Linked DNA regions of Homo sapiens. The protein of the gene in region 1 interacts with the protein of each later gene in a pairwise test. Each region holds a gene or a part of one and is shown in the gene's direction. Other genes may lie near its edges.

Region 1 (3,474 bases):
TCCATGCTACTAGCACATCCTAATCTGTGTCCTAGAAAACACTGCTGTACCCCACAGCAGCAAGGAACAGAGGCCAAGGGAGCAGACAGGGAGATGGTGCTGGAAGCAGGGTCTGCTCTGTCGAGGGAGAAGGTGGGTGCTGAGCACTCTGGTATTTATTGAAGTCATTTCTCTGCAGCCTCTTCCTGTGTCTCCTGCCTCCAGAGAGAAGCCCCTATCCGTGCTCCCCAGGAACACAGATGCAGGATCTTCCACACACACAAATCTAACCACATCCATGCCCTGCTAGGAGCCAGCCATGGTGCCTAGAGGGTGACAGGTCACCTTGCCTGGCCCGGAGGAGAACGGCTTGTCCATGCCATGTGTGGCCTGTGAGCTTGAGCGGAGGAATTCCTGCAGAAGCTGGGCAGGGGTAGGGGGGCACAGAACTGACCCAAAACAGCTCCTTCCCCTCTGTCCTCACATCCTGACCCCAAGATGGCTCTTCTCAGGGAAAATCACAACCCAACCCTCTGAAAAAGCACATTAAGGAAAAACACCTTTGAGAATCTCAGGGGGGGATGTGGAATTTCTCCACCAGAACTTCACAGTGATAATGACACCAAACACAAGAACGACAATAACCAAAATCAGGAGTTTTATTCTCCTACCTTCTCTCTCTCTCTCTCTCCTCTCACTGTCATGAACGTCACGAAGACACTGACTTTGCGTTTTCTACTCAGCACTGCATCACTGGTGTCTGACACGAAGCCTGGGACATGTAGGCTCCCAAGTGGACCTGTCCTGGGTAAATGACCATTAATGAGACAGAGAAGGAGATGAAGAGCCCCCAGAGGAGTGTTGAGTCCCAGGGGTCCCGCCAGCTCCACTCCCACCTTCCAAACCTGTGAAAGTCAGGTGCCTGAGTCACACAGTCTCTCCCACCTGAATGCCATGAGCTGCAGGTGACTGAGAAGTTACTGGATTCTTGACCATGTGTTTCGGTTGTGAGGTTGGGACCTAATGGGACCCTTTGAAATGATGTCATGGGTTAGCAATGTCCCAAGGAAACTGAGGAAAGTCATAGCTCAGTAGGATCCTGTGGAATCGCTGTGTGGACATGTGAGTGTCGGAGAGTGTTAATGCCAGGAGCATCCTGAACCTTCCTATTTTCCAGAGGACTCAGTGTGGGGGACGATTGGGGCACATAGCACAGAGAAGGTGGAGGGTGTACCGCTTCTCTCCTGATTACAAAGGTGAGATCAAAGCTACAATGACACGTACCCTGCCTGGCACCTCTCCTGCCCAAGGACCCAGCCTGTCTCTGCAGGACTTGCAGGAGGGCAGGAAATGCCATGACATCACCAGCTCCACTAGAAATATGGGATAAAAGGAGTGGCTGAGATCTGCTGATCCCCTCCTCACTCCACTGCAACCACCCAGAGCCATGGCTCCCCGAGGCTGCATCGTAGGTAAGGAGGACAGGACCCCATTCCCACCTGAGCCCATCTCCAATCTCAGCCACCACCAGGGCTCTCTCCCTACCCCAAACTACACCTCATCCCTGTTCCCATGCCCAGCCAAATCTCCAGGCGTGAATTGCTCACAGCAATTCCCCATCCATAGTGCCCAGATCAGCCCCATCCACAGCCCTGTTTCAGTCCCTGAGCTGCTCAAAGCCATACCGAGCCCTGGTTCCACCCAGTCTTCTTCTAAATGTCAGTGCCAGTCATATCTGTGGCTGTCCACTCACCCCATCTTCCCTTTCCCTTTCCCACAGCTGTCTTTGCCATTTTCTGCATCTCCAGGCTCCTCTGCTCACACGGAGCCCCAGGTGAGCCCAGGAGTGTTTGGGAAGCTGGAGGAGGGGTACACCTTCCAGGGGACCCCAGGCTGGGACCCACCTGCCACTACCTCCTGGATCTCACCAGCTCTGTCTCCTCCAGTGGCCCCCATGACTCCTTACCTGATGCTGTGCCAGCCACACAAGAGATGTGGGGACAAGTTCTACGACCCCCTGCAGCACTGTTGCTATGATGATGCCGTCGTGCCCTTGGCCAGGACCCAGACGTGTGGAAACTGCACCTTCAGAGTCTGCTTTGAGCAGTGCTGCCCCTGGACCTTCATGGTGAAGCTGATAAACCAGAACTGCGACTCAGCCCGGACCTCGGATGACAGGCTTTGTCGCAGGTGAGTCCTGTCCCCTCCGTGGGATTGTGGGTGCAGGGTAGCTGCATGCCTGTTCTGCCCTGGGTGGAGCCCCCATTCTCCTTGTCTCCCTGTCTCTGCCCCCTGCTTCTATTCAATCCACCTCTCCCTTTCCCTACACCTGTGTCTCCATCCATTTTTATTTCCCTCTCAGAATCTCACTCTCTCTACCCCGCTGTCCTCTCCTCCTGGCTCTCCTGTCCTCATTTCTGCCCATGTTCAGTCTCGCCCCCATCTCTGGCCATCTCTGTCCCGCTCAGTGTCTCTCTCTGTCACTATCTCCAGTGTCAGCTAATGGAACATCAGGGGAACGATGACTCCTGGATTCTCCTTCCTGGGTGGGCCTGGAGAAAGAGGCTGGTGTTACCTGAGATCTGGGATGCTGAGTGGCTGTTTGGGGGCCAGAGAAACACACACTCAACTGCCCACTTCATTCTGTGACCTGTCTGAGGCCCACCCTGCAGCTGCCCTGAGGAGGCCCACAGGTCCCCTTCTAGAATTCTGGACAGCATGAGATGCGTGTGCTGATGGGGGCCCAGGGACTCTGAACCCTCCTGATGACCCCTATGGCCAACATCAACCCGGCACCACCCCAAGGCTGGCTGGGGAACCCTTCACCCTTCTGTGAGATTTTCCATCATCTCAAGTTCTCTTCTATCCAGGAGCAAAGCACAGGATCATAATAAATTTATGTACTTTATAAATGAATGCTGTAGAATTCATGAATTAGAGAGCTTGGACTGTTGAAAGGGGTCACAGAGGGTGACGTGGGGCCCCTTCTCTCTGTCACCCTGAGGCATCTGGGCCTTTCCATTTGTTCTGTTCGTGCACACACTTATTTTCTCTTTTTCCATTTATTTTTAAATTTATTATTTTGTTATTTGTGCTCGGTGACTAGGACCCTGGCCGCACCTGGGACAGGGGCCACCCTCCTACACCAGCCTCCACCACCCCATGGCTCCCTGAACCCAGTCACAACATCGGGAGCAGCCCAGGTGGGGTGGGGAGGAGGTGGGGATCGCGAGAGGGCTTCGGAGAGGCACTCCCTCTCCCACCAGTTCTGGGACAGAACAGGACCCGGCTGTTTGTTCTTGATGTACGTTAAGGAGATGCAGACAGACTGGGAAAGAACGGAGGTTCTTTCTCCAACTGGCTATGGGGAGAAGGTCAGAGTAGCTTACCAGACCAACTCAAAGCTACAAACTTCTTTTTCTAGTGCTTATATGCATTCTAAGCTCCACGCCTATGTGCGGAGTGCACCTGCAAGACAGCGTGTTTCATTCTTAT
Region 2 (4,298 bases), about 10 Mb from region 1:
ATCTCTCTACCCTCTATGCAGGGAATGTACCCGAGGTGGCTTCTGCAACTTCATGCATCTGCGGCCCATTTCCCAGAACCTCCAGAGGCAGCTCTATGGGCGGGGACCCAGGCGCAGGTACCTCAGGACCAGCCTGCTATGTCTCCTCATGTCCTAAGGCCCCTATATCCTCAGATGAGCCTAACCCTAAGCCCCAGTAACCACGTTCCCAAGAATCTTTTTTTTTTTTTTTTTTTTTTGAGATGGAGCCTCACTCTGTTGCCCAGGCTGGAGTGCATTGGCACCATCTTGGTTCATGGCAACTTCCGCCTCCCGGGTTCAAGCAATTCTCTGCCTCAGCCTCCCAAATAGCTGGGATTACAGGCACCTGCCACCATGCCCGGCTAATTTTTGTGTTTTTAGTAGAGATGGGGTTTCACCATCTTGGCCAGGCTGGTCTGAACTCCTAACCTCGTGATCCACCTGCCTCACCCTCCCAAAGTGCTGGGATTACAGGCGTGAGCCACCACTCCCGGCTGACTGTTTTTTTTTTTTTTTTTTTTTTTTTTTTTTGAGACGGAGTTTTGCTCTTCTTCCGCAGGCTGGAGTGCAAAGGCGCAGTCTTGGCTCAGTGCAACCTCTGCCTCCCAGGTTCAAGCAATTCTCCTTTCTCAGCCTCCCAAGTAGCTGGGATTATAGGCACCTGCCACCATGCCTGGCTAATTTTTGTATTTTTAGTAGAGATGGGGTTTCACCACGTTGGCCAGCCTGGTCTCGAACTCCGGACCTCAGGTAATCCACCCATCTCGGCCTCCCAAAGTGTGGGGATTACAGGCGTGAACCACTGCGCCCGGTCATTCCCAAGACTCTTATACCCTAAGAGTAGTTCTGAGCTCCATCTGGAGACCAGTACCTAAGTCCCAATCCCCAAACCAGCCTGAACCCCTAATCCACGACCAGCCTGGATTGCCACCCCTGATACTGGCCACTGAGTTCCCCTGATACTGGCCACTGAGGTCGTGTCTTAGAACTCTAGTTATTTCAGCACCCTCCTGCCTCATCCCAGAGCAGAGAGGCAGGCCTGCAGGATCTCTGCACCACTCCTCAGGGTTCTAACAGAACTCTCAACGCTCCTATTCCCAGGTCACCCCCGAGGTTCCATACTGGCCACCATCCCCGAGAGAGGAACCATCGGTGTTCCCCTGATCACTGGCATGGCCGCTTCTGAGGCCCTGGCCCCCTTACCCTTCACCCCCAACAGGGACAGATGTTCCTGGCAGGACCTCTCCTCAAAGCCCCCTTCACTCTCCTGCCCCATCCTTCCCAGGCTCCCGGGCTCCATAATGTAATCTGTTCAGCATGGAGACCTTCTTCTACCGCCCCTGTCTTAATAAAGCTGCGTGTTTCACTTCGGCATCAACTTGCTTTTGCTGTGGTTTGGCATTTCCCTCCACCCACACATGTGACGAAAAGGGGAAACAAGACTGGGTCCTGGCCACAACTTCAGCTGAGGAACTTGGCACGGCCAGCTTGGGACCCAGGACCCTAACGGTACTGGTAGGGTGGGGACACCTTTGTGCTGAAAACCTTAGCACCTCCATCTGAGGCTTATTCAAGGGGGAGAGACCTGGTTGTGGCAGGTGGGAGGAGCCCTAGCCCCAAGGAGATTAGGATTCAAAGGTGAGGTGAGGTGCTGGGAGGTGGTCTCCAGCCAGTATGGGGCTGACTCCTCCGTGCCTGCCGAATTGTGATGGGAGTTAGTAATGCCTTACACTTAAACACTGAGTTTACTGTATGTGAGGTGCTGTTTTCAGCACTTTAGTTTGTTTTTGTTTTTTTTAAGGAGTTTCATTCCTGTTGCCCAGGCTGGAGTGCAATGGCACGATCTCAGCTCACTGCAGCCTCCACTTCCCAGGTTCAAGCAATTCTGCCTCAGCCTCCCAAGTAGCTGGGATTTACAGGCATGCGCTACCACGCCCGGCTAATTTTGTATTTTTAATAGAGACAGGGTTTCACCATGTAGGCCAGGCTGGTTTTGAACTACTGACCTCAGGTGATCCACCCACCTGGGCCTCCCAAAGTGTTGGGATTACAGGCATGAGCCACTGCGCCCGGCGGCCAGTTTTTTTTGTTTTTAGAGATGAGGTCTTGCTGTGTTGCCCAGGCTGGTCTGTAATTCATGGCTCAAGCAATCCTCCTACCTTGGCCTCCCTAGTAGCAGGGACTACAGACGTGAGCCACTGCACTTGGCAAAGTGCTTTGCTGTTTTTTTTTTTTTTTTTTTTTTTTGTAAAGATGGGGTTTCATTTTGTTGTCCAGGCTGATCTCTCGAACTCCTGGGCTCAAGTGATCCTCCTGTCTTGGCCTCCCAAAGTGTTGGGATTACAGGCATGAGCCACCACACCCAGCCCCTGCTTTACTTCTAATGACGGTTCTAATTCTCCACAATAACCCTATGAGACAGGTGCTATCATTGTCTTATTTTAGGGATGGAAAAGGGAGGGTGGGTGGGTGAGGACACGGCAGAGGTGGGATATGCATTCTTGCAATCTAGATCCGCAGCCCTGTTAGTCCCCTAGTGGCCTTGTGGGCTTCTCTGATAACCGGCTCAGTTGGGGGATGAGGGCTCGGGGGTAGATTCCCGGCTTCCGAAGAGGCGTGAGAATTCTGTTCCCCCACATCACCGCGTCCTTTCTTCTGCCCGATTTCCCCGGAAAGTGTAGCAGAGGCGCTGTGTTTGGAAGTCCCGCTATCACGGCCCCCCAGATGGGGCCTGGACGATGCCTCCTGACGGCCTTGTTGCTTCTGGCCCTGGCGCCACCGCCGGAAGCCTCCCAGTACTGCGGCCGCCTTGAATACTGGAACCCAGACAACAAGTGCTGCAGCAGCTGCCTGCAACGCTTCGGGCCGCCCCCCTGCCCGGGTGAGAATCCGAGACCGAGCCTTGCTTGGGCGGAGCTTGCAGGTGATAGGGAGCGGGGAAGGGGCGAGGTCTGTGGGCTACGGGCCAGAGAGGCTTGCTTAGGGGTCTAAGCGGTGGGCCTTATGCAGATCAGACAGGGATGGCAGGCAGAGCCTGTGCAGATAGTGCGGGCTACCGTAGGGCAACAGCGAATGGATATGGCTGGAGAGGCGGGATAGGGGCCGCGTGGAAAGGGTGGGCTTTATGTAGAGAAGCCGGGAGTGGGCGGAGCTTCGTGCGGAGCAGGCTGGAGGGGGGTGAAAAGGCGAGCCCGGAGAAAAGTGACAAGACCGGGGCGCACGCTAATAGGCTGGAAGCGTCCTGGAGGGGCGGGGCACGCTGGGATAGGGCGAAGGGAGAGGGCGTTGCCCGCGCAGGGGCGGGCTAGGCGGCCGCACTGGAGCGCAGCTTTCCCGCTAGACTATGAGTTCCGGGAAAACTGCGGACTCAATGACCACGGCGATTTCGTAACGCCCCCGTTCCGAAAGTGTTCTTCTGGGCAGTGCAACCCCGACGGCGCGGAGCTATGTAGCCCCTGCGGCGGCGGAGCCGTGACCCCTACTCCCGCCGCGGGCGGGGGCAGAACCCCGTGGCGCTGCAGAGAGGTGCAGATGGGACTCCCGGCAGGGCAAGGGCGTGCTGGAGGTGGGGGGCCTAGATGTAGGGAGCCGGCGTAGCCCCACGTAAGGGGTGGGGCCGTGGTTTCAGGAGGTGGCTGGCCTGCAGGGGTCGGGAGGTCCTAGGTTAAGGTAGTTGGGCCTTGCGGGGCCCAACTACCTTATCAGATACCGTATCAGATGGGATGTGGCCCCATTAAAGGATATAAAGTTGGGAGGTTTGGGAGCGGGCAGGAGTGGAGTGTGGCCTCCAGCTTTACTCCAACCCCTTATCCCCAGAGGCCGGTCCCTGCCAAGGGGCACTGCCCCCTCACACCTGGAAACCCAGGCGCCCCTAGCTCCCAGGAGCGCAGCTCACCAGCAAGTTCCATTGCCTGGAGGACCCCTGAGCCTGTCCCTCAGCAGGCCTGGCCGAATTTCCTTCCGCTCGTGGTGCTGGTCCTGCTCCTGACCTTGGCGGTGATAGCGATCCTCCTGTTTATTCTGCTCTGGCATCTCTGCTGGCCCAAGGAGAAAGCCGACCCCTATCCCTATCCTGGCTTGGTCTGCGGAGTCCCCAACACCCACACCCCTTCCTCCTCGCATCTGTCCTCCCCAGGCGCCCTGGAGACAGGGGACACATGGAAGGAGGCCTCACTACTTCCACTCCTGAGCAGGGGTTAGTCCTGGAGGAGCCCCGGGGCAGGGAAGGTGGACTGGACGCCCGCTCTTCCGCACCTTTACCCTTCCCCTTTCTTCCA

The links.
Region 2: the proteins of IGFL1 (region 1) and IGFLR1 interact in binary tests that used the Homo sapiens proteins (3 or more experiments, as listed by UniProt).

Annotation. Positions count from the first base shown.
Region 1 is NC_000019.10:46,228,349-46,231,822, forward strand, and holds IGFL1 (insulin growth factor-like family member 1 precursor), read left to right. Parts: upstream 1-1,393; 5' UTR 1,394-1,426; coding exon 1,427-1,451; intron 1,452-1,759; coding exon 1,760-1,813; intron 1,814-1,925; coding exon 1,926-2,169; intron 2,170-2,472; coding exon 2,473-2,482; 3' UTR 2,483-2,895; downstream 2,896-3,474. UniProt on the Homo sapiens protein: Probable ligand of the IGFLR1 cell membrane receptor.
Region 2 is NC_000019.10:35,739,628-35,743,925, reverse strand, and holds the start of IGFLR1 (IGF-like family receptor 1 isoform a precursor), read left to right. Parts: upstream 1-1,473; 5' UTR 1,474-1,530; exon of another isoform or gene 1,531-1,536; intron 1,537-2,697; exon of another isoform or gene 2,698-2,702; 5' UTR 2,703-2,745; coding exon 2,746-2,902; intron 2,903-3,361; coding exon 3,362-3,546; intron 3,547-3,837; coding exon 3,838-4,216; intron 4,217-4,298. Other genes in the region: U2AF1L4 (splicing factor U2AF 26 kDa subunit), read left to right, coding at 22-117, 1,123-1,328. UniProt on the Homo sapiens protein: Probable cell membrane receptor for the IGF-like family proteins. Binds IGFL1 and IGFL3 with a higher affinity. May also bind IGFL2.